7 linked regions of the Homo sapiens genome follow. The protein of the gene in region 1 purifies or fractionates together with the protein of each later gene. This does not show direct contact. Each region holds a gene or a part of one and is shown in the gene's direction. Other genes may lie near its edges. The genes, in order: PCDHGC3, GAP43, GRTP1, SPTBN4, CNTN1, PROCR and CD109.

What was found.
Region 2: the proteins of PCDHGC3 (region 1) and GAP43 purify together in Homo sapiens (affinity purification with mass spectrometry; 2 studies listed by BioGRID and IntAct, with this or other methods). This does not show direct contact.
Region 3: the proteins of PCDHGC3 (region 1) and GRTP1 purify together in Homo sapiens (affinity purification with mass spectrometry; 2 studies listed by BioGRID and IntAct, with this or other methods). This does not show direct contact.
Region 4: the proteins of PCDHGC3 (region 1) and SPTBN4 purify together in Homo sapiens (affinity purification with mass spectrometry; 2 studies listed by BioGRID and IntAct, with this or other methods). This does not show direct contact.
Region 5: the proteins of PCDHGC3 (region 1) and CNTN1 purify together in Homo sapiens (affinity purification with mass spectrometry; 2 studies listed by BioGRID and IntAct, with this or other methods). This does not show direct contact.
Region 6: the proteins of PCDHGC3 (region 1) and PROCR purify together in Homo sapiens (affinity purification with mass spectrometry; one large-scale study listed by BioGRID and IntAct). This does not show direct contact.
Region 7: the proteins of PCDHGC3 (region 1) and CD109 purify together in Homo sapiens (affinity purification with mass spectrometry; one large-scale study listed by BioGRID and IntAct). This does not show direct contact.

Annotation. Positions count from the first base shown.
Region 1 is NC_000005.10:141,506,966-141,510,220, forward strand, and holds part of PCDHGC3 (protocadherin gamma-C3 isoform 1 precursor), read left to right. Parts: intron 1-3,255. UniProt on the Homo sapiens protein: Potential calcium-dependent cell-adhesion protein. May be involved in the establishment and maintenance of specific neuronal connections in the brain.
Region 2 is NC_000003.12:115,630,010-115,633,509, forward strand, and holds part of GAP43 (neuromodulin), read left to right. Parts: intron 1-3,500. UniProt on the Homo sapiens protein: This protein is associated with nerve growth. It is a major component of the motile 'growth cones' that form the tips of elongating axons. Plays a role in axonal and dendritic filopodia induction.
Region 3 is NC_000013.11:113,361,331-113,365,339, reverse strand, and holds the start of GRTP1 (growth hormone-regulated TBC protein 1), read left to right. Parts: upstream 1-1,209; 5' UTR 1,210-1,288; coding exon 1,289-1,320; intron 1,321-1,429; coding exon 1,430-1,578; intron 1,579-3,471; exon of another isoform or gene 3,472-3,781; intron 3,782-4,009. UniProt on the Homo sapiens protein: May act as a GTPase-activating protein for Rab family protein(s).
Region 4 is NC_000019.10:40,465,777-40,469,800, forward strand, and holds the start of SPTBN4 (spectrin beta chain, non-erythrocytic 4), read left to right. Parts: upstream 1-1,224; 5' UTR 1,225-1,529; intron 1,530-1,947; exon of another isoform or gene 1,948-2,288; intron 2,289-4,024.
Region 5 is NC_000012.12:41,024,439-41,027,938, forward strand, and holds part of CNTN1 (contactin-1 isoform 1 precursor), read left to right. Parts: intron 1-711; coding exon 712-898; intron 899-3,418; coding exon 3,419-3,500. UniProt on the Homo sapiens protein: Contactins mediate cell surface interactions during nervous system development.
Region 6 is NC_000020.11:35,175,072-35,177,862, forward strand, and holds the end of PROCR (endothelial protein C receptor precursor), read left to right. Parts: intron 1-1,096; coding exon 1,097-1,375; intron 1,376-1,626; coding exon 1,627-1,742; 3' UTR 1,743-2,291; downstream 2,292-2,791. UniProt on the Homo sapiens protein: Binds activated protein C. Enhances protein C activation by the thrombin-thrombomodulin complex; plays a role in the protein C pathway controlling blood coagulation.
Region 7 is NC_000006.12:73,825,203-73,828,813, forward strand, and holds the end of CD109 (CD109 antigen isoform 1 preproprotein), read left to right. Parts: 3' UTR 1-3,111; downstream 3,112-3,611. UniProt on the Homo sapiens protein: Modulates negatively TGFB1 signaling in keratinocytes.

The DNA of each region.
Region 1 (3,255 bases):
TGCAAGGCAGGTCTGATTTCTCACACTCGACAGATGAGAGAACCGAGAAGGCACTTGCCCCAGGGTCCTCAGTTTTGAGCTGCCAAGCTGAGGTTCTAACCTGGCTCAACTCCTAAGTTTATGCTCTTTCTACTATAGGGACCATGGCTGCCTTTGGATCCAGCCTCGGCTTCTCTATTACCTGAGCAGGATGAGAGGCTGTCCTCTTCCTCGAGCTCTGCTTTATTCTTCCAGATCAGGGTTGCCAGATAAAATACAGGATGCCCAGTTACAGTTGAATGTCAGATAAACAGCAAGTACTATTTCAGCATAAGTCAGTCTCAAATGTTGCATGAGACATAATGTACTAAAAAAAAAAATGCTCATTGTTTACCTGAAATTCAAATTTAACTGGGAGCCCTGTACTTTTATTTACTAAATCTGGCAACTCTACCCCAGATGTCTGTGAGGTTAAGTGGGGCCAGGCCTACAGCTGACGGAAGGACAGAGAGAGAGGTGGCAGGGACTGCTGGCCTCCTGAGGCAGAGCTGTCCCAGGTCTGGTGGGGCTATGATTCCAGAGAGGCCAGAGACTGAGTATGAAAGTGGCAGGCGGCTGGGTCTGAGGAGATGCCAAGTTGGCCTCTTGAGGGAAATAAACAGGTATATTTAGCTGTTGTGGCCTTGCGCCCTGAGGCCAGGAAGCAGCTTTTTAGCCTAAATCCAGATGTTAAAAACAGAAATGAAATCAGTATTTATGGCCCCAAACCCTCCAAGCAAGTCATGCAGCTCGTTCCCCTGTCAAGGCCTCCCACCTTTGGCCCACACAGGGCCTGACCCTCGTCTAAGCCTGCGCCCTGGGGAACGGACCCTGGGGGTGGAGGTGGTGGGTCAGGCCCTGCTCTCACTTTCACACCCGCTTCCTAGCCCTGAAACCAGAGAGGTTCCTGAAGTCCAGCCCAGCCAGGCCTGTGGGGCTGCTGAGAGGGGTTAAGTAAGAGGGAGAGTAAAAACCGACACTTGGGAGGAGGCTTTTAAAATAAACATCTGCGGGGAGGGATGCTCTCAAGGAGGCTGCGGTTTGCAGCTCAGCCAGCTGTGTTCCAGCTAATCAGCCTCCTTGGGCTACTCTGGAGTTGCTGCCTTGGCCCTGGGATGGGGTAGGTTAAGAGGACAGAGGGAGGTCAGGGAGCTGGGGGCTGAGTTTCCCTGAGTAGAGGCTGGCACAGGAGAGAAGGCATCACCCCCACCTCGTCCAGGCCAGAAGATGTCCAGCTTCTTGAGGCTCTCCTAAGTCTGCCTCTCCTGGGACCAAGAGAAAATCCCGGTCCTTGACCAAGGTGGGCCTTGGGGGGAGTGGGGTGTAGAGGGAGGGGCACTGGAGAACTGACTCTACAGAAAGTCAAAGCTGGCAATCCAACTTCTTCCCCTCAGATTTATAGATGGGAAAACAGGCTTGAGCCACGCAGAGACTTGACCAAGCTCACACAGTTCCTTAGTGGCAGAGCAGAGCAAATATTCTCTTTCTTTTACATTCTGGATTTCCATATCTTCTCTCCCTCCTGGTCCAGCCCAACCTCAGGGCACCCCCCACGAGGTGGGCGGGGGATGGCTTTGTCACTTGCACCCACTCGGGGTGCTACTCAGAGATCTTGGGTGCACATAGGACGTGGGTGGGCCGAGCTTCTAGCTACTCCGTCAGGCCCTTCCTGTCATTCTGTCTCTGCCTCCCTTCTCCCTGCTTCTCCGTGTTCCTCCTCATTCTTTTCTGTGTGCAGGGAGACTACACCCCCCACCCCGCTCTTTCTCTGGCGCCTCTGAGGTCCCCCCTCTAGCCCCTAAATCACTCTGGAATCCTGGCTCTTTGAAGCCAGATCTGGGCCCCCCTCCCCTACCCCTTCCATTCCCAGGCTGGGAAAGGCTGAAGAGGCTGACGGCTGGAGGGGAGGGGGCGGGGCGGTGGCGGATCTGGCTTCCTTTTGGAGTTAATTAGGGAAAACAGAGAAATGTCAGCGGAATGAAAGGGCTGGGGGTGGGGGCCAGCTGGGGTAGGAGAGGAGGAAGTGGGCAGCTGCTCCCTCCCACTCAACCCCTCTCCCCCGCCCCCAGAAAGCTCTCAGCTCCGGGGATTTGCGACATGAAATGGGGGCTGTAGAAACCTGAGCGCTGGTGCGTGAAGAGAAAAACCGAGGCGCATCCCGGCTCTCCCCTCCCGTGTGCCCTCCTCCTCTTATGCCGGCTTGAAAATATTTCCTGTCTCTCTATTTCTCAATCCCTGGTTGATGTCCCAGGATTACTCAGCCTCTCCGGCTTTAGTCACTCTCGCTACCCGCTCCCAGGGTCCAGGGTGGAGGCAGAGGGAGGCTGGGAGAGAAGCTCTACTGCCAGCTGGGCCTGGGCTGGCCTGGGCATCCCTGAGGTTTTAACTGTCTCCTAACCACAGAGGATCTCAGGGCCTCCAGCAGCGAGCCCCAATGAGTCAAACTCTTGTTTCCTCCTCTCCCACCCCCGACCCAGTCAGGGCAGGTGAGGGGTAGAGGTGATGGCATGCTGGATGTGACGGTGTTGATGATGTATTGCACAGGATGAAGCACCATCTCATTTAGTCCTCACAGCAGCCTTCACAGTGCGTACAAATCAGCTGGCAATTCCGAGAGGCTGCATTCTAAACAAGTTCCTGGGTGATGCTGAGCCAGGGCCAGAGTGTGGACTTCTCTGGGCCCCAGTTTCTTCTTCTGTACAGTGGGACGTTGGACTGGAGGTGCTGTCTGATGTCACCTAGCTGTGGCACTCTGAGCCTGTGCCTAAAGTGTCCCTGAGATGTCTAGTCCCCGAGATCATCATCTCCTCAGCTTCATAGAGCCGAGCTCTTCTCCATCTTCTCTCTACCTCCCATTCACTCAGAACAGGGATAAGGTCCAAGCTGCTGGTGGTGATGGTGACTGACTGTCCCTTCCAGCATGCGCTTAGGTACACTTGGGCCTGAATGCCCCTCTAACAAATGCTACCGGGTATGGCCTTGGTCCTTCTAACACTTGGTTCCCTCATCTGTAAAATGAGGGTCATACCACATAGCTGGCTGGGCTGTTATGTAGAGGTTAAAAGTGATTGTGCATGTGAAGCATCCAGCAGAGTGCCTGGCACACAGTAGGTGCTCAAATGCTGTTTTGAAATACAAAAATTAGCTGGGCTAGTGGTGTGCACCTGTAATCTCAGCTACTCAGGAGGTTGAGGCAGGAGAATCACTTGAGCCCAGGAGGCAGAGGTTGCAGTGAGC
Region 2 (3,500 bases), on another chromosome or scaffold:
GCTGGCACTATCTCCCCTCCATGTCCTCCTCGTCCAACAACCAACATTACAGCCCCACCCTCTCTGGTTACCACAACTCTGGATCTTCACATGCCCTTACTTTGAGGCTCCAAGTACTTGCACTCACTGCTTTGCTTCACAACTCTTACAAATAGACCGTAAATCAATCTGTGTGATCCATGAAATAAATCAACTAAGAGTAGCAATATTTTTTTCTTTAAATGCATGTAGTGCTGGCCTGTGCTTAGGTGTGTGTGCTCAAAAATTAATTTTACCTTCATTTGGATTTCTTTTCTTCCGTCTGAAGTATCCACATAATAATATTTCACAAAGATAAATCATGATTGGAGGTATAGGGAGGGTGAATGGTAAGTAGTCCCTCAAATGACTGTTAAAGGAATGTTAGTACCAGATGAATTGGATTTTTCTTAGGTTTAAATAGACTGAAGGGACTTGGGTTCTGAAGTAGTCCTATTGTGCCCAGCATGGAACAAATTGCAACCACTGTTTTCCATGAAAACACTCTTGCCAGACGCTAAGTAGTGTATTTTCTCTGACTGAATTGGCATGTCCTTGAGAACAGCAGAAAGACTAAATAATTTGTAAGTGAAGTTTGTCTTCAACTGGTAAGGTTCAGTAGTATTTGTCAATTGCCATACCCTCACTTGATATCTTGCTTACTGCTCCCAATCTCTTTGGCATTGAGTTTTTCTATTATTTTCTCCTCCTGTCAGACCCAGGTAGAGTTTTTCTGATTAAGTAATACCAGTTCATGTTAGTGTTTAGTGGGTGAGGCTATGGAAGGAGAACTTTAAGAAAAAGTGTGTTTCTTCAAACTTTCTAAAAAGTACTTATAGACAAAACAGGTATTTTAAGCTATGTCTGGCACATCTTAGATTCTCAATAAATATTTGTTGAAGTAATAAATGTAGGAAGGGAAGGAGCATCATGATGGGTCATTAGGGGAGATGTTCTGGGACAGACGACCATTTCTGATTACTTATTCAGCGTGGGCTTTGTGTAAATGCAAGCTCAGCTCTATTGGTCCCCCTCACAAGGTGGATGTAGTCAAAGTTCAATTCCCTCTCCTGTCTGCTTAGATCAGAGAGACACACTTGCAGTCATTTCATTCAGGTTTAGCACGGGAATGTGATCTTCCAGATTTCCTATCCTTAATTATTTACAGATCTTATTTTCTTAGATGTTGTTTGTTTAATGTCCTGTTTCATGTCTTTGTAGTGGAATAAATCCTTTCCCTGGGTTCTAGACCTGGTTCTGCCAATTGCTTGTCATGTGATGTTGGGTAAGTAATTTAACCTTTCTGAGCCTAGTATATTCATCTGTGTAGTGGGTACATAAAAAGAACCTCCAAATCCTGTCTTACCTTTTCTTCTTAAAATTAGGTTGGTGTGAGTCTCAAATAAAGAGATAACAATAAAAGTGTTTTGCAAACAATGTGTTTTTGAAATGTAAGTATTATTAATTAAGGAATTTCATAGATCGAGCACTAAAGTATTCATGGCTCTAAGCAAACAAGAAGTACTCTTGCTCTCTGTATAGAATACACACATTCCCCATTTCCACCTGATTCCCATACTCTACAGAGTAAATTTTTTGTTTGTTTGTTTTTTGAGATGGAGTCTTGCTGCCATCCAGACTGGAGTGCAGTGGTGTGATCTCGACTCACTGCAACCTCCGCCTCCCAGGTTCAAGCAATTCTCCTGTCTCAGCCTCTCAAGTAGCTGGGACTACAGTTGCATGCCACCACGCCTGGCTCACTTTTGAATTTTTAGTAGAGACAAGGTTTCACCATGTTGCCCAGGCTGGTCTTGAACTGCTGAGCTCAAGTGATCCACCCACCTCGGCCTCTCAAAGTGTTGGGATTACAGGCATGAGCCGGGCACGGCTCAGAGTAAATATTAACCATGCTAATGGATGGGAACATAGTATCTGTTTATTATTTCCTTTGAAAACTTCAGTGACAGAATTTAGATAAGCCAATATTCAAAGTGTTACAAGACCCAAGGATCACTTCAAATGCATTAGAAATACCCACTGTTTTTCTTTTTATCTTTTTCTGTTTTAGTCTTTTCCTCACATTTAGATCTCTTTTCTTCTCCATTTGCTAAGTTTGCTGCCTCCCCCTCTATACCCACCCCCACTTCACCTCCAAACTGGGTTCTCAGCACTAAGATGGCCAGGCATGCTGTGCTCACATCCATCACATGAGGGCCCAGTCAGGCAGAAGAGTGGAGAGAAAATGCAGGGCTGGTTGGGAGACTGAAAATGTAGATACAGTTTGGTTGGGGGAAGCACATTTCAAAGATGATCCCTTGATCACCATTTCCACAACCTGACTTCAGGGCTCCTCAATACAACAGGAATAAACCTTGATTAGAGAGGTGATATGTAATCCTAAACCTTTCCAAACTCAACTCTAAATGCCATAATCTTTTGAGCCCTCAAGATCTCCACAAAGGACATTATAGTTCTTCTGTGTCCCTGGGCATGACTGGGATAAATTACCACTTTAAAACAACAAAATTTAACAGATTCTCCTATAAGCACAGAATTCTACAAACCAAAGAAACTGAGTTTTTAAACATATGGATAACATTTAGAAATACTTTAAAGTATAATAACTGGATCAAGTTAGTCTAAGAAATCCTATTTTTCCTAGAAGCCAAAAGTTTAGCATAAAAAAATTAGTATTGTACATATTTTCCCAAAATACTTTTATACAAAGGGCTCATGTAGACTGCAATAGAAAGGTGTGTTAACTAGAAATTTGAAAATAAACTGGTGTCCAGAAGGAAATAATGATTTCTTTAATTATATTTATATTTGGTTAATGGTATCACCTTTAAACTTTCACTCTAGCTACATCCCTTTCTCCCTGTTTCTTTCTTCTTCTGCCTCAGAACACACTACTTCTATTATATATGCGTTTTTTGATTGGGAACAAGTATCCAAAACCAACTTTAAGAGTCTATAAAAGGAATTTATTGGAAAAAGAAAAAAAGCAGCGATCATATGAAATTAGTAAGTTGAACAACGAAGCCTATGGGAACCAGGGTAGAATTTCAATAACAGGAATTCATAAACTCTTTCTGGGGCCCTGCATCAAAAAAGACTCAGTTATTAATAATCCCAGCTACAATTCAAATTTTAAATGATGAGAGAGAAAGAGAGAGATAAGAGAGAGACAGACAAAGGGAGAGAGGGACAGAGGGAGAGAGACAGAGAGAGAGAGAATGAGGATGAATGAATTTTATTGGTCCTGCTTGGGTCACCTAGCAACTGCCACAGGGCCGATATCTCTGACTGGAAAAAGGGCTGGGTGACATAGGTTAGAGACAATTTTGGTAAGCCCACACTTGTAAATCTAGTGAGAGGGTAAGTTGGTTGAGAATTAGTCTCCTGCATATATACCTATATGTCCACATAGTCCACATGTGGGTTAGCTACCCGAGTCAGAAGGAACTTATCTCAAGTGTGGT
Region 3 (4,009 bases), on another chromosome or scaffold:
CTGGGCACTGACCCCCACCCCGCCCCCCGGTCTTGCAAGGGCTGGAGAAGGGTGAAAGGCAGAGGCGGGAGTCCGCACTTAGGGACCGGTCCGTTCCACACGCTGCTGACCAGGCTCCTGGGTGGCGCTCGCATGGAACATTCCGGAAACACCCATGGGAAGGTCCCAAGTTGGTTCCGAAAGGCCCTGACGGACGCGCAGGGGACGCTGAGCCTGTGATCCTCGCCTCACCCAGACGAGGCCGGGCTGCTTCTCACAGGAAAGTGCGTCTGGAGTCCGGGGACGGCCTCCTCCTGGGGCCTGTCCAGGTCGCCCTGGGCCTAAATTACAGGCGGGGAGAGGCCTGTCGGAGGAGCCCCCGCTCCAGACCCCTGGGGGACCCAGGGCGAGGTCGCCCCAGCGCCTCACGTCTGGGGGCTCCCCTTTGCCACGTCGCCAGAGCAAAATTCAAAATCTGCAGTTCTGGCAAATTTCCGGGGCCTCCCGGACACGAAAAGCAGCTGAAATCTCAGGACAATGTCATTGGATGCGGACCGAGAAGAAGCCGTTCGGAACCAGAGCTGCCCCGGATTCTCCCAGGCCTGGCTCGCCGGTGGGGGGACCCCGGTCCCTGGTTTGGGGGGGCAGGAACGGGCGGGCGCCCCTGGGGGCTTCTCATTTGTGTGTTGGTCTCGGCCTTGAAATGCAGCGGAGAAAATAAAAAATAAAATAAAAATAGGAGTCAGGTGTCAGAGTCGGGTCGGCCAGGCACTGAGGTTTGAAGGAATCGCAGAAGAAGCTCCTCTCACCCGGGTCCAGGCCGCGGGGGTTCTGCGGGAGGCGCCCCCGATTCTGCCCGCGGGACGCCGCGGCCTCGGAAGCCCCGGGAGCAGGCCCCGCCCCGCCCCCACCCTCCTCTCTCCCCAAGTCCTCCCGCCCCCCCAGCCCCGCCCCTCCCCCGCCCTGGGTGCTCCCCTGCCCCTCCCCCGGCCCTCCCCCGCCCCTCACCCGCTCCTGCCCCTCCTCTCTCCCCAGGTCCTCCCGCCCCCAGCCCCGCCCCTCCCCCGCCCTGGGTGCTCCCCTGCCCCTCCCCCGCTCCTGCCCCTCCTCTCTCCCCAAGTCCTCCCCGCCCCCAGCCGCCCCTCCCCCCGCCCTGCCCCCCCCCGCCCCCGCCTCCAGCCCCGCCCCTCTCCGCTCCCCGCCCCGCCCCCACGCGCCCGCGGTCCCGCCGGAAGGACTTAAGCGCCCCGGAGCCGGGAGGCGAACTTGGGACCCGCTGGCCTCGCTCGGTGCGCGCCTCCCTCCCCGCATGCAGCCCGCCGAGCGCTCGCGGGTCCCCAGGTGTGTGGCGCGGGGTGCGGGCGTCCCCGGCGGCTGCGGTCCCCGCGCGGGCCCGCGACCCCCCAGAGGAAACTTCGGGGACGCCGGCCTCCTTCTCTCGGTTTTGCAGGATCGACCCGTACGGATTCGAGCGGCCTGAGGACTTCGACGACGCCGCCTACGAGAAGTTTTTCTCCAGCTACCTGGTCACGCTCACCCGCAGGGCGATCAAATGGTCCCGGCTGCTGCAGGGCGGGGGCGTCCCCAGGAGCCGGACAGGTGGGTCCCGGGGGCGCAGGTGGGTCCCGAGGGCGCAGGTGGGTTGGGCTGGGACGGGCCGGGCAAAGTCCGGGCTCCCGGAGCGGAGGGAGGGGGAGGAACCTTTCCGGGCAGGTCGGGACGAAGCTGCGGGCTCCGAGCTAGGGCAGCCGCAGGGACCGGTTTTCCCGCTTTGAGATGGGCCGGCGGGTCGGACGCGAAGGAGACCCGTCCCTCCCAGCAGGGAGCCATATCGGGATGGATCAAAACTCGATCCATGCCGGGCGCGGTGGCTCACGCCTGTAATCCCAGCGCTTTGGGAGGCCGAGGCGGGCGGATCACGAGGTCAGGAGTTTGAGACCAGCCTGACCAACATGGTGAAACCCCGTCTCTACTAAAAATACAAAATTAGCCGGGCGTGGTGGCTCCTGCCTGTAGTCCCAGCTACTCTGGAGGCTGAGGCAGGAGAATCGCTTGAACCCAGTAGGCGGAGGTTGCAGTGAGCCGAGATTGCGCCATTGCACTCCAGCCTGGGCGACAGAGCGAGACTCCGTCCTTGTGACGGGACCCACAGGGCCCTGCTCGACCTGCCGCTCCTCCGCGACCCCAGGCCTCCTACTGCTGCGGTGAGCACCGGCCTGACCGCCCGCCCGCCTCGGGGTTAGCTGCAGGGCCCCCTCCTCCGGGGCGCCCCAGGCTTCCCTGTGCGGAGGGCACCTCCTCATTTCTGCCTTTCCCAGCACAGCCCCTGCTGGAGTCAAAAACCCTTCCTCCCTGCAACGGATTTTTCATTCACTGCTCAGTCCTCAGAACCTGGGGCAGTGCCAGGCGACTTCCCTGTGTGTTCAGTGAATGAATGAAGTGTCTGCCTGGGGTGAGGGCTTGGTGGGAGTGTGCCCTGGAGCTAGGAACTCAGAGAAGTGGGGTCAAAGGGGAGTCCTGGGGGCTTCCTGAGAAGGGGGATGTGAATGGCAGCTGGGCTTCCAGGGACCGAGCAGTAGGGACCTGGTGGGGAAGGACAGAGATGAAACCAGGGGCCCTGCACCTGGGCGGAGGGTCGGAGGTGTGTGGTGACCACGGCCAGGCACAGAGAAGCCAACTGTTAAAGGTTTTCCAGGCAGGGGGTGACAAGATCAACTTTTGCTTTTATTTATTTATTTGAGACAGGGTATCCCTCTGAGTGCAGTGGCACAATCACCACTCACTGTAGCCTTGACCTCCTGGGCTCCAGCCATCCTCCCCTCTCAGCCTCCCGCATAGCTGGGACCACTGGTGTGGCCACCACTCCTGGCTAATTTTTAAATTTTTTATAGAGATGGAAGTTAATATCCTATATGCTTCCCACGAATGCATCATGTCCCATCCCTGTGGCCTCTGCATGTTCACATGTTTCCAGTGGAACGTGTGTCTTTATTTTTCCTTTTCATTTATTCTTTTTGATTTATTTATTTTTGAGACAGAGTCTCACTCTGTCGCCCAGGCTGGAGTGCAGTGGTGCGATCTCAGCTGACTGCAACCTCCACCTCCTGGGTTCAAGTGATTCTCCTGCCTCAGCCTCCTGAGTAGCTGGGATTACAGGTGCACACCACTACACCTGGCTAATTTATTTTTTATTTTCTTATTTTTTTTATTTTGAGACGGAGTCTCACTCTGTCGCCCAGGCTAGAGTGCAGTGGCATGATTTCAGCTCATTGCAACCTCTGCCTCCTGGGTTCAAGCGATTTTCCTGCCTCAGCCTCCCAAGTAGCTGGGATTACAGGCACCTACCACCACGCCAGGCTAATTTTTCTATTTTTTAGTAGAGATGGGTTTTACCATATTGGCCAGGCTGGTCTCAAACTCCTGACCTCAAGGGATCTGCCCACGTTGGCCTCCCAAAATGCTGGGATTACAGGCATGAGCCACTGCGCCTGATTTATTCTTAAAAGTTAACTGTCTTTTAATTTTAAAAAGTAACGTAAAAGTATATAAGACATGTGAACTTAAAAAGCATAATTTATGTACATGGTAAACACTTTAATCATACTGAGGGCTACAAAGTGCAACAGGGAGTTTCTCTCCCACCCATGGCCCCCATCTCCTATAGAGATGACCGCAGGGGACTGTCCTTCCGTCCCCCTCAGGAGCAGAAGTCCACGCTTGGTTCTGCAGTTTGCTTTAAGAGCAGGGGAAGTCCGTGGGAAGTCCTGTGGCTGTGACCTGGAGGTTGGTTACAGCGGAGAATCTGAAAGATGTATGGTTGTGCATAAATTTTTGTTTTTACAGAAAACACAACTGCACAGTCATTCTCCCGTCTTTGCCTTTGCCATTTGGGTCTGTCCTATTGCTGTCCTTTTCTTCGACCAGGAGCTGCTAACTTGGGTTCCATATTTTCCTTTTTAGGGAACCACTCAGCACATTGCCCCCACTTTCCAATATGGACTTGGGAGGGGGTTCTGGGAAGAGCAGGGAA
Region 4 (4,024 bases), on another chromosome or scaffold:
AGCCAGGAACAACGGGGCGGAGCTGGCTCGAAGGGCCACGCCTCAGACTCTCCGCCCGCGGCTCAGGTCAAGGGGCGGGGCCTAACGCGGATGGGCGGGGCAGGCGTCAGCTTGCATTCGCTCACCGTCCAGCACCGCCCTCTCTGCGCGCCACTTAGACTGGAAGGCGGGGCCACAGAAGGCCACGCCTCCACATAGCAACAAATAGAGTGGACGGAGCCGAGATAACTTGTCACTCAGCGCCCTGCCTCCGCGCTCCACCTCCCGGAGAGGGGCGGGGCCAGGCGAGCCTCACCCACGGCCTCTCGTAGCTCACGCCCCCTCTCCCGGAGCCTGGAGCGGATCTGGGGCGCACTCTAAGCCCCAGGGCCTCCCAGAACCAGCAAGGGGAGAAAGTTAGGAGGACAGAGTGTGTGTGTGCACTTGGATGTAAGACACTGTGTCACGGCGTACCTATGCACTTATATGACCCTGTGTGACTCAGTGACCCGGAGGGCAAGCAGGACTGTGGGTGACACCTTGTGTCATCCTCTGAGTGTGATCCCGTGTTACAGTGTGACTACACGTGCGTGACACCACGTGTGGCAGGCATTGATTCTGTTCTTTTGTGACCTTGTGGTGACACCGTGGGTGACACTGCGTCAGCCTGTACGATAGGGTGTGGGACGTGTGAGGTGTGCTACATGGAAGCGTGAGACTAATTAGACTGTGACAGTGTGTGACACCACATGTCTCGTGTAAGGATGTGTGACACCGGGACCCCATTCGAGTGTGTGGCTGTGGGTGTCTGTGTTGAGCTGCTCATTGTGACCCCCTGTGACTATGATGTGTGAGGTGCGGCGGTGCAGCATGTGCGGGGCGACTGCTATGAAGGTTCGAGTGTGTAGAGTGTGTGACACTGTGGCTGTGAAGCTGTGCGTGATGTGTGGGCCTATGACACTGTTTGTGACTGCCGGGGAGTGTGCGGCTGTGTGTGACAGGTGCATTTGTGTGTGACGCCGCGTGGGCGGTGGTTACCCTATTGGATTTGTGTGGTGGTGGGTGACACCGTTCCAGTGTGGACGCCGCGTGTGACGGCGTGAGGGTGTGACCCCGTGAGACCCCACAGGAGGGAGTGACGGCGCGCAAGCGCGTGGATGCGGGGGTGAGTTTGTGCGCCGAGGCCCCCGCGAGTATGGCAGCGTGGCGAGCGTGACCCCGTGGGAGTGTGCAGCGCGTGACGCCGCCGTGCCCTCGCGAGTGCAGCCGTGCACCCCACGCCGCGGCCGGGTGTGACTGCGCGTGGGCCTCGGGCGGCGGGGCGCGGGGACCGCGGGCGGGAGGGGGTCCCGGGGGCGCGCTGAGCGCGGCGGCGGCGCGAGAGAGGGAGGCGCGGCGGCGCATGCGGATCTGGCTGAGCCGCGGGCCGGCGGGGCCGAGCTGAGCCGGGCTGGGCCGGGCCGGGCCGGGCCGGGCAGCGGACGCCGACAGGGAGGGCGGTCGGTCGCGGCGAGCAGCGGAGACAGCGACGCTGGCGGCCGCGGGCCCAGGTGAGCTGCTAGGGGGGCCGACAGCCCCTCCCCCAAGTATGTCCCCACCTGGCGAGCATCCCTCCTCCGCGCGCACGGGGCATGGCTGGAGCCCCGGGTCTCCCCGGCTGGAGGGAGGCAAAGGGTCGAGGGCAGGACGAGCCCACAACCCCCCCACCCGGTCTAGCTTCCGCGCCACGCGTGGGTCTTACCCCCAGGCCTTGTCCTTCCCAGGCCCCCTCCTTGGGCGCAGTGTCTGGACCGCAGGGAGAGAGGCGCGGCCTGGGAAGGGTTAAAGCCTCTGATGCCACCGCAGCCCAGCGCCCCACCAGCCTTTGCGGGGGGGGGGGGGTGTTGGGGGGAGGCTCGCAGGACACCCCTTCCCGGCTTCCCTATTACCTGCTCCCTTCCTTCCCATTCAATCGCGTTATGGCCAGAGCTGATCCTCGGCCTGGCCAGAGGGCTAACAGGAGTGCTAAGGGCCTCCCCATCTCTAAGTGTCTTCCACTGAAGAAAACAGCTGTAACCACCGTTTAACAGGGAGGGAAACTGAGGCACAGAAAGGCCAAGTTAAAGATACTCGGTTAAAGATACAGCAAGAATAAAGCGGAACTTGAACTCATTTCTGTCTGACTCCAGAAGAGGCAAATCGATTTGCTGAGATGTGTGAGGAAAAGATGAAGAATAATAGCAAGGAACATGTATCAAGGGCTTGCAGTGTACCAGATACCATGATCCCTGCATTAATAACTTACCTCTTCAAACACCGCTAAGAAACGGGTACGATTATCATTACTTTTTTTTTTTTTTGAGACGGAGTTTCACTCTTGTCACCCAAGTTGGAGTGTAATGGCGCGATCTTGGCTCACTGCAACCTCTGCCTCCCGACTTCAAGCAGTTCTCCTGCCTCAGCCTCCCAAGTAGCTGGGATTACGGGCATGAGCTACCATGCCTGGCTAATTTTGAATTTTTAGTAGACATGGGGTTTCACTATGTTGGTAAGGCTGGTCTCCAACTCTTGACCTCAGGTGACCCACCCACCTCCTTGGCCTCTCAAAGTGCTGGGATTATAGGCGTGAGCCACCGCCTGGCCTACCCTTTTGTGTGTGTGTGACAGAGTTTCATTCTGTCATTCAGGCTGGAGTGCAGTGAGTCAATCTCAGCTCACTGCAACCTCCATCCCCCAGGTTCAAGCGATTCTCCTGCCTCAGCCTCCCAAGTAACTGGGACTACAGACACGTGCCACCACGCCTGGCTAATTTTTGTATTTTTTTTAGTAAAGACCGGGTTTTGCCATGTTGGCCAGGCCGGTCTCGAATTCCTGGCCTCAAGTGATCCACCTACCTTGACCTCCCAAAGTGCTGAGATTATAAGCATGAGCCACCGTGCCGGGCCATCATTACTATTTTGCAGATGAACAAACTAAGGCCCAAAGAGTGGAAGTATTTCAGCCAAGGTCACACAGGTGGTAGGTAGCTGTGTGCTCACTTTCACTTTTCCATGGAAGGAGGGAAGAACAAAAATGGATTTGGGACTGGGCACAGTGGCTCACATGTGTAACCCCAGCACTTTGGGAAGTTGAAGTGGGCAAATAGCTTGAGCCCAGATGTTTGAGACCAGCCTGAGCAACATAGTGAGACCCCCTCTCTACAAAAAATACAAAAATTACCTGGTCATGGTGGAGCTTGCCTCTAGTCCCATCTACTCAGGAGGCTGAGGTGGGAGGATCGCGTGAGCACAAGAGTTGGAGGCTACAGGGAGCTATGATTGTGTCACTGCACTCTAGCCTGGGTGATAGAGCAATACCTTGTCTCAGAAAAAAAAAAAAGATTTCAATGTGTCCCCCTAAGGGACAATTTCCACTCTACTCACTCTACTGACCAAGACTTAGACCCTGCCTTCCTAGAATTCAGTGGGTTGGCAATTGTCTGGGTCTTTTGAGGACATTGATCTCCCAACTTCCTCCTTTGTTAGTCTTTTTTTTTTCCTTTTTCTTTTGAGAAGGAGTCTTACTCTGTCGCCCAGGCTAGAGTTTAGTGGCACAATCTCGGCTCACTACAACCTTCGCCTCCCGGTTTCAAGCAATTCTCCTGCCTCAGCCTCCTGAGTAGCTGGGATTACAGGCACCTGCAACCTTGCCCACCTAATTTTTGTGTTTTTAGTAGAGATGGGGTTTCACCATGTTGGCCAGGCTGGTCTTGAACTCCTGACCTCGTGATCCACCCGCCTCAGACTCCCAAAGTGCTAGGATTACAGGTGTGAGCCACCACGCCCAGCCGTTAGTCTTAGAATCAGGCCTGGGGGCCCAGAAGGTAAAGGAGATACATCTAATGTCACTTAACCCTTTAAATTTCTTCTCTTTTTTTTTGTTTTTTTTGAGATGGAGTCTCACTCTCTCACCCAGGCTAGAGTGCAGTGGTGCGATCTCGGCTCACTGCGACCTCCGCCTCCTGGGTTCAAGCAATTCTCCTGTCTCAGCCTCCTGAGTAGCTGGGATTACAGGCATGTACCACCAT
Region 5 (3,500 bases), on another chromosome or scaffold:
ATCCATAACTTTTCTTAAACTTTAAGAGAAAAGTAATCCTGTAATTATTTGACAAAAGTAATCATTTCTAATGAAAAAATCGATAACTTTTTTAAAAATTATTTTATGGGTAAATAATTTCTACAGTTTATCCAGTTATTAGATATATTTCTTTGATATCTAGCTTCTATATGGGTTCAAAGGAAATAACATTAGATACTTCTGAAAGGAGGCAGAAGAAAGTATTACTTTAGCGTATTCTAGGCCACATAGTAACTATTTTTATCCAGCAAAATTATATTCCTCTCCAACTGCTTTAAGAATGGCTCAGAAGAAGTTTGAAATCATGCAAACAGAAGTAAAACAGGAAATAAATGATAAAAATTATAGTGACAAATACTTCCAAATGGAGACCACTTTTATATTTTGAAAGTAAGTCTGCTTCAAAGTTTTTGGGATTTTTAAATTTTTTATTTTTTATTTTTTTTAGTCAATGTAAAACAATTTTGGGCAATGAAGTAAGACTTTGATTCGCTTTTGGCATCTTTAGTCATTCCTGCCCTGTATGCTTTACTATATTCTAAGGCTGATAAAAGGGTAGATATCATTAAGAAACATTTGAAAATATGATGATCAGCCAACACCAATGGTAATAGAACCAGTTGAAGAGAACTTTTCATAGCTGAAGACTCTAAATCATGGCAAAATATAACTCATCCTGAATGTTTGCAGATTCGGTATTGGGCTGCCCATGACAAAGAAGAAGCTGCAAACAGAGTTCAAGTCACCAGCCAAGAGTACTCGGCCAGGCTCGAGAACCTTCTGCCAGACACCCAGTATTTTATAGAAGTCGGGGCCTGCAATAGTGCAGGGTGTGGACCTCCAAGTGACATGATTGAGGCTTTCACCAAGAAAGCACGTGAGTCTCACGTTTTGTTTTTAGACTTGTCAAAAACTACCACTGGATTCAATCATGATACGAATATATTTGAAGGAAATTTCCTACCTAGCTACCTGAGCACATTTTTCAATATCCTTTACAGCCACACAAGATTTCCCTTAAAACGTGAATTATTGTAGATGATGAAAAAATGTGAAAAATACCCTCACACGTTAAATATTCCATTATAGAAATAAAGTTAGAGAACTATCCTTTTGTAAAGGCTGTCCTCTCAAATTCTGTGCCATTAACTTGTCTTTACCCTGTACTTATTAATTTAAACATTGTTTTCATAGGAGTACATCAACAGCATGTGAAAACTAAAATTCTGCTTATTTTTACATGCTTTAATTTATAAACCTCTGTCATTGCACAGTGCAATGCAAGTTAAGTGTGTAGCATTATGCTTACTCTCTTATTACTGTATGTTCTAGTACTGTATGTTTTAGGTGGTTCATAAAACAAGACCGCCTATCCCTGCTCACGTTCTGGTCATTCTAATCTCTCTGGGTTCATTTTGATATCTCTGTTCTTGAACCCAAGTGGAATAAGTAAAAAGGAGAATTTTTATGTAGGACTCTAGGGAATGTCTCAAGAATCTGAAGATGTGATTACCATTAGAGTGTGAAAATTTATGAAATTCACTTTGGGACAGAGACTCTCCCAGTGAGATGACAGAATGTAGTGACAAGAACTAGAATTTGGTGTCTAACATGTGTTTGAGATCTGTCTCTGCCACTTGCTAGATGTATGACAATAGATAAATTACCTATTTAAACCTCAGTTTTCTAATTTGTAAAAGGAGCATTCATTTTTGTTCTTTTTCCATTTGTTCATGTATTTATTCATTCATCAAAAATATGCTGTGTGCTCAGCACTATTCTTGATGGTGAGGATACAAAAGGGATCAAACCAGTCCAAGGTGCTATTCTCGCATGGTTTACAAGCTAATGAAATGAGATAGAAACTTCAAACAAACACAAACTCTGACAAATAAATAAGTGGGATTAAAGCAGCTGACAGGGCAATAAAATGAATAAATAGACAAAAGTAAAGTGACTTAGATAAAAGTGAAATTCTGATTGGGTGGCCAGGAAAGGCCTCTGAGAAGATGCCAGTTAAGCTATGATTTGAGTGATAAATGATAAGAAGAACCCACTATGTGAATAGCTTTAGGCAGAGCCTTAAGGTTCTTTGCACTCTAAGTAGTACAAAACCTTAAGGTGAAGAGCACTTAAAATATTTTAGGTGTGGAAAGGCCACTGGGTCCAGGGCATAGGTTCTGAGTAAGGAGGGGGAAGTGTTCTGGGGCCCAATTACGGAGAACCTTGTAAGTAATTGTGATGAGTTTGAGTTCTTTCTAAACATGATAAGAAGCCATTGAAAGATTTTAAAACAGAGAGTGATATCTAATTTATGATGTTGTTTTTAAAAAAGTCATTCTGGCATCTGTACAGAAAATGGATTGTGGTGGGTTAACAGTGGAAGCAGAAAAGCCAGTTAGGAGACTATTTCAGCAGTCAAGGAGAGAATTGATAGTGGCTAGCACTAAGTGAAAATGGAGACAGAAGTGGAAAGTTTTCTGTAGGCAGAGTTGACAACTTGCTGCCAATTTGGATGTTGGCAATGAGTGGGATGAGAGACTAAATACCAAATTTCTGCTTGAGAAACTAGGGGGTTGGTTGTGCCATTTGCTGACGATGGCAAAGAGTCATTGGAGAAAGATTTGAGGATACTCGACATTATATTACATTTGAAAAATGTATTACATTTGATTATATTACATTTGAGAAATCTTTTAGAGACTCAAGTAGAAATAGGCTGATATCTGCCTAGACAGAGAGACCTATAGCCACATATGTCTAGAGGTTGAAAGAGAGATTAGGGCTAGAGACAGAACTGTGAATATTTAAAGCCATGGGCCTAAGTGTCAGTACTTAGGGAAGATCCACAGAGAGAGTAGAAAAGGTACATAGATGAAGTCCTAAATCATCCAACAGTTACAAGTTGACAGAGGGAGCCAGCTAAGCATGAATAATGGGAAGCAGCAGCCCATGAGGTAGAAGGAAAACCCAGTTGTTAAGATCTGAATTTAAGAAAAAATGAGAGATTCAAGAAAGAAGATGGTCAATTCTGTGAAATGCTCCAAAAATGTTAAATTTAAAAAAGAATAATCAAGTGACATTAGATTTAACCAAGTGGAGGTGATTGATGACCTTGCAAATAGCAATTTCAAAAGACTAGTGGAGAAAGAAACCCAAGTGGAGCATGATGAGAAGAGAATAAAAGTCATATTACCTAGCTCACAGGGCCATGGGGTACATTAAATGGACTCATGGATGTAAAGTGCTTAGCATAGTGCCTGGCATATAGTAAACACTTATTAAAACTAGATGGTGGTGGTCATTATCATCAGCATTATAATACCTGATGCAATAGAGTATGCAGAATTGAGATTGGATATAGTGACCACTGATTGCATATTACTACTTTTCACAGCTCCTAGCCAGCCTCCAAGGATCATCAGTTCAGTAAGGTCTGGTTCACGCTATATAATCACCTGGGATCATGTCGTTGCACT
Region 6 (2,791 bases), on another chromosome or scaffold:
ACTGGAGCTCGGTGGCGCCTGGGCCTTTGAAGATTGCTGGGTGGGGGCTGGAGAGAGGCAGTTGTCCCCGCTAAGAAAGCCCCGACTCGGGCGGTCGTCCTGCTGGCATAACCTCTTGGGATAGACCCTGTTGGAAGGCCCTGACACCGTGACGTCGAAGGTCCCCAGAAAACTCCTCACCCCTCGCCTCACAGTCCTCCAACTCCTTTTCTTCATAGATCTCCGTCCTTCCCTTCCCACAGCCCCCAGCACTTCACCCCCCACCCTCCAGCCACTTCTCATACAAGCTGATGACTTCGCTCTTAGCTCCACTCATGACCCGAACTCTTCCCCCAAAGACCCCAAGTTCTTCTCTCAAAGCCCCACTCCTTCCCCGTCACAACCCTAACTCCTTCTTCTCAAAGACCCCAATTTCTTTTCTCAAAGCACCAAGCACCACTCCGTCCCCCTTCCCCCACCATCATGGCCTTTAACTCCTTTCTCTCCTAGTCCCCCACCCCACCCCCCTTTTTTTTTTTTTTTTTTTTTTTTGAGACGGAGTCTTGCTCTGTCGTCCAGGCTGGAGTGCAGTGGCGCGATCTCGGCTCACTGCAACTTCCGCCTCCCGGGTTCAAGCGATTCTCCTGCCTCAGCCTCCCAAGCAGCTGGGACTACAGGCACCCGCCACCACGCCCGGCTAATTTTTTGTATTTTTAGTAGAGACGGGGTTTCGCCATGTTGGCCAGGCTGGTCTCGAACTCCTGACCTCAGGCGATCCACAAGCCTGGCCTCCCAAAGTGCTGGGATTACAGGCGTGAGCTGCCGCCCCTGCCCCAGCCTCACCCCCTGTTTTTTTTTTCTATTACAGTTGAACAAGGCCTGACAATTCCCTTTTTTCATCACAGTCCCTGGCCCCTTCTTTCTTAGCCTCTAACAGGCTAACCCCAAACCCCTCCTCACAGCCCCAGGCCCTTCTCCCCATAGTTCCCTGACCTAGACTCCCCTCTCCTCACAGCACTGACTCTTGCCTTCTCATGTTCTTTTCCCCTTGGTGGGCCTCGCCCCACACCTGGCACCCTCTCTGCACAGTCCCCTGACCCTGACTGTCTATCCACAGTTCCTCTGACCATCCGCTGCTTCCTGGGCTGTGAGCTGCCTCCCGAGGGCTCTAGAGCCCATGTCTTCTTCGAAGTGGCTGTGAATGGGAGCTCCTTTGTGAGTTTCCGGCCGGAGAGAGCCTTGTGGCAGGCAGACACCCAGGTCACCTCCGGAGTGGTCACCTTCACCCTGCAGCAGCTCAATGCCTACAACCGCACTCGGTATGAACTGCGGGAATTCCTGGAGGACACCTGTGTGCAGTATGTGCAGAAACATATTTCCGCGGAAAACACGAAAGGTATGATGGGACGGGGCCCAGGCCTGCAAGCTGGGGAGAGGGCGGGTTCCAGACAAATGGATGGACCTGAAGGATGGATGCCTAGAGCAACAAGAGGCCCACAGCTGGGGGTTTGGGACAGAACACACGCAGCTTCAGTCAGTTGGTAAACGGGTCCCTTTCCTCTGGGGCAGAAACGCTTTGGGGTTTGACTCAAATCATGGACTCCTTGGGGGCCTATTCTTCGGGCTAACTCTTTGCATGTTCTGCAGGGAGCCAAACAAGCCGCTCCTACACTTCGCTGGTCCTGGGCGTCCTGGTGGGCAGTTTCATCATTGCTGGTGTGGCTGTAGGCATCTTCCTGTGCACAGGTGGACGGCGATGTTAATTACTCTCCAGCCCCCTCAGAAGGGGCTGGATTGATGGAGGCTGGCAAGGGAAAGTTTCAGCTCACTGTGAAGCCAGACTCCCCAACTGAAACACCAGAAGGTTTGGAGTGACAGCTCCTTTCTTCTCCCACATCTGCCCACTGAAGATTTGAGGGAGGGGAGATGGAGAGGAGAGGTGGACAAAGTACTTGGTTTGCTAAGAACCTAAGAACGTGTATGCTTTGCTGAATTAGTCTGATAAGTGAATGTTTATCTATCTTTGTGGAAAACAGATAATGGAGTTGGGGCAGGAAGCCTATGGCCCATCCTCCAAAGACAGACAGAATCACCTGAGGCGTTCAAAAGATATAACCAAATAAACAAGTCATCCACAATCAAAATACAACATTCAATACTTCCAGGTGTGTCAGACTTGGGATGGGACGCTGATATAATAGGGTAGAAAGAAGTAACACGAAGAAGTGGTGGAAATGTAAAATCCAAGTCATATGGCAGTGATCAATTATTAATCAATTAATAATATTAATAAATTTCTTATATTTAAGGCATTGTTATCTCCTCCACTTTGCAAAATTTCTGGAAAAGTAACCTATACCCATTTCTTCTGCTTCCTTATTTCTCACTCATTCTTTTTTTTTTTTTTTTTTTTTTTGAGACAGAGTCTTGCTCTGTTGCCTAGGCTGGAGTGCAATGGTGTGATCTCAGCTCACTGCAACCTCTGCCTCCCGGTTCAAGCAATTCTCCTGCCTCAGCCTCCCAAGCAGCTGGGATTACAGATGCATGCCACCACACCCAGCTAATTTTTGTATTTTTAGTAGAGATGGGGTTTCACCACGTTGGCCATCCTGACCTCGTGATCCGCCTACCTCGGCCTCCCCAAGTGCTGGGATTAGACGTGAGCCACTGCGCCTGGTCTTCTCACTCATTCTTAGACCCAGTGCAATCTGACTTCTCTATAAACTACTCTGAGATCACCAGTAACCTCTAATTGTCAAACCATCACCCTACATGGTATCTGCAAATTTGCGGACTAGAACTCTCTTTTTGC
Region 7 (3,611 bases), on another chromosome or scaffold:
CCTGTACATAGAAAATAGATCCCCAGACAGTGGTCTATGAAGAGGGCAGTTAAGTATCAAATACTTAATTTTCTTGCCTTTTTTTCTTAAGTGGGGAAAAGTTTCTAGATCTCTTACACCTCTGACACAATCTGTTCTAAAACAGGCACTTGTAATGTTGGGGCCTCCTTGTAAACGTGTTTTTGCCCTTTACTCTCTGGGAGTTCTTTAAAGGTGAAATCATCTTACAAAGAAATTGGGGGAGGGTCTTGGCAAAGGACTTTCCCCTCCTCTTTCCTGGCCTGGGAACCTTATACTGACAATCAATACTTTATATTTTAAAGTATATAATTTATAGTTAACTTCTAGTGTAATATATTAGGAAACACTAGAATGGAAAGGCCATTGGAAGACAGGTTGTATCTTTTTTAGACCATATTTCCTTGTTTAAAAACTATCATTTGAATACTTTTTTGGTGAAGAACTCCATGTTTTCAAGTTAAAGGTCACCTCGTAGGCCAGGCGCAGTGGCTCATGCCTGTAATCCCAGCACTCTGGGAGGCTGAGGCGGGTGAATCACAAGGTTAGGAGTTTGAGACCAGCCTGGCCAATATGGTGAAACCCCGTCCCTACTAAAAATACAAAATTTAGCCAGGCGTGGTGGCATGCACCTGTAGTCCCACCTACTCGGGAGGCTGAGGCAGGAGAATCACTTGAACCTGAGAGACAGAGGTTGCAGTGAGCCGAGATCACGCCACTGCACTCCAGCCTGGGGGACAGAGTGAGATTCTGTCTCAAAAAACAAAAAACAAAAAAGTCACCTTGTAACTCATCTCTTTTTATTGTAAGTTTATTAAAAATGAAGAGGACAACAATGAGAAGGAACATAAAGGGTTAGCTAGCACTGTCTCCTGGTGCATGGGGCTGTGCAGATGTCCCGGCCACTTCTTCCTTCATACTTCCCTTAGAGAACTTGCTCTGCTACAAGCAGTGGGCTTGGACTAAAAGTGATTAAAATACCACAGGCATAAGGAGAAAAGGAGTATATGTAGTAGTAATAATTACTAGTATAAATTATTTTCTTCACATGCTATGAGTAATAATATTAAAAAACTCATTTTACCATTAAGATTCCTTATGCTGAAGCTCTTCCATTTAGAATACTGTCAATGTCATTTACTGGTATGAACTAAAGTCCCCCTTCTTTTCCACTCACTGGGAACCTTAGTAAAACACCAGCATATCTTACCTCTCTTTCTGACTGGCCGATGCTTCCAGAGACTGAATGTTGGGAAAACCTAGTAGCCAAACAATTCTAGGACAGAATAACATTTTTATATTTGGTTCCACCATCTTATTACATTTAGTTATAGTTTTAAAAAAGAAATTCAAGCCCATTAAAATATGTCTGGTCAATGAAATGCTTCCTTTTATTGTGTTGTGCTATTGTACTTTGTTTTTCAAAACATTGTAAAAATAGTATCTTTGGTTTAGTATTTTGGATTATATATTATAATCTGAGGAGTGTTTTGCTTATGTAGAATCCAGATATATTTCTGTTACCTAGGAGATGTTACTTACATATGTAATACTGTATCCTGCACGTGGAAATATTCAGAATTGTAGATAGCATAACTCTCCCTGCTCCTATTCTTTTGAGCCTAGGTATAATTTTTTTTTTTTTTTTAGAAAAAGACATATTTAGCTTTAATTTCTATTTATGCTAAACATATTTATAAGTAGTCTGTCAATATAATACCAACTATTTTTATTTTTACATAATTCAATTATTTCATTTGACATGTCTGGCAGACTCAAGACATTAAGTAAAAAATTGGAACTATGATTTTTCTTTGTCATTTTTTAAAAAAGAATTATTTTATTAACCTGCTGGCATATAATCTGGAGTTCTTTTCACAACCTTACTTTTTCTGATTTGCTTTATTGAATGATTGAATACTCATTTCTTTCTAAAAATATGTTGTAAATTCTCCCTTGGCAAGATTTCTCCCTATGAGGGTAGTTATTATTTGAGTCTGCCAAGTGGTTACCATGGGGCAAGGTGCCATGATGTATTCTTGGGTGCATTGGTTTTTTGCGCATTGTAAATTTAAGACACTTATAGTAAGTGGACTCATTCATAGATGAGTTTCAGAACCTTTTACGTTCTCGGTAGAGGCTTCTGTCGGACAGGCAGAAGAGTGTATTCCTCACTTTTTTTTTTGTCTTCAAATTCCAGTAAGGCATAGCACTTTTAAGAAATTAGAATTTTTCTATCATCTATGCAAATGATATTTATGTTAATATTAAATATCTTATGTTACACTGGGAGTAATTTGAGGTGCAATTATTTTTATTACTACTTTGAATAGAGGACCATTATCCTTCTTTCTTCAGAAAACTAAGAAGTAAGTGTAACTTTTAAAGTAAGTATATATCAGTGAGAGTAGGCTTGTTTTACAACTATTTCTAGCCAGTGAGTTGTGTTTTCATGTCTCATCAAAAGACAATACCACATTGCATCATTTTACAAAATATGTTGTCATTTTCATTTCAGTTGTAACATAGGAAAATAGATATTTCCTAGATGATTTCTGAGTTTCTTACTGCAAAGAACAGTTATAAATTGGTATACATGTGTCTCTGTAATAGGGATAATATTGATATATCTGTTGCTACATATTTAAGAATCATTCTATCTTATGTTGTCTTGAGGCCAAGATTTACCACGTTTGCCCAGTGTATTGAATTGGTGGTAGAAGGTAGTTCCATGTTCCATTTGTAGATCTTTAAGATTTTATCTTTGATAACTTTAATAGAATGTGGCTCAGTTCTGGTCCTTCAAGCCTGTATGGTTTGGATTTTCAGTAGGGGACAGTTGATGTGGAGTCAATCTCTTTGGTACACAGGAAGCTTTATAAAATTTCATTCACGAATCTCTTATTTTGGGAAGCTGTTTTGCATATGAGAAGAACACTGTTGAAATAAGGAACTAAAGCTTTATATATTGATCAAGGTGATTCTGAAAGTTTTAATTTTTAATGTTGTAATGTTATGTTATTGTTAATTGTACTTTATTATGTATTCAATAGAAAATCATGATTTATTAATAAAAGCTTAAATTCTCATCTATTTATTATGTGTTCTTTTTATTTTAGCATAAAGCATGTCTATAGCACACCTCCCTTATTTAAGCTTATTTATGAGAAACAGGATATTTGAGGCTAGCTTAGAGTAGGGATTATTGTGTTGCAAGGTAGCAACATAATGAAGTTGAAGAAATTTGATTACCAGCCTCCTTTACCTCCCCGCTCAGTGGAGAGGTAAGTAATACACAAATTAAAAAAATTAATGTGAGGTGAGCACTCACTTAATCTCTGGAAATTATATAGAAGTATATAGAACACATAGTTTTTATACACACAGGAAAATGGAGGCACAGATTGTCTCAGCCAGAACATAAGATTTCATGTACATTTTCTTAATTCCCACCCAGTGTTATTTAATATTTCTGTTGCCATGAATTTTCTGGGCTTCTGTGAAATACTAAAGATAGCATTTCACAATCGGGGGTTCTCAACTGGAAGTGATTTTGCCTTCAGCAACCATTTGCCAATGTCTGTACATTTTTT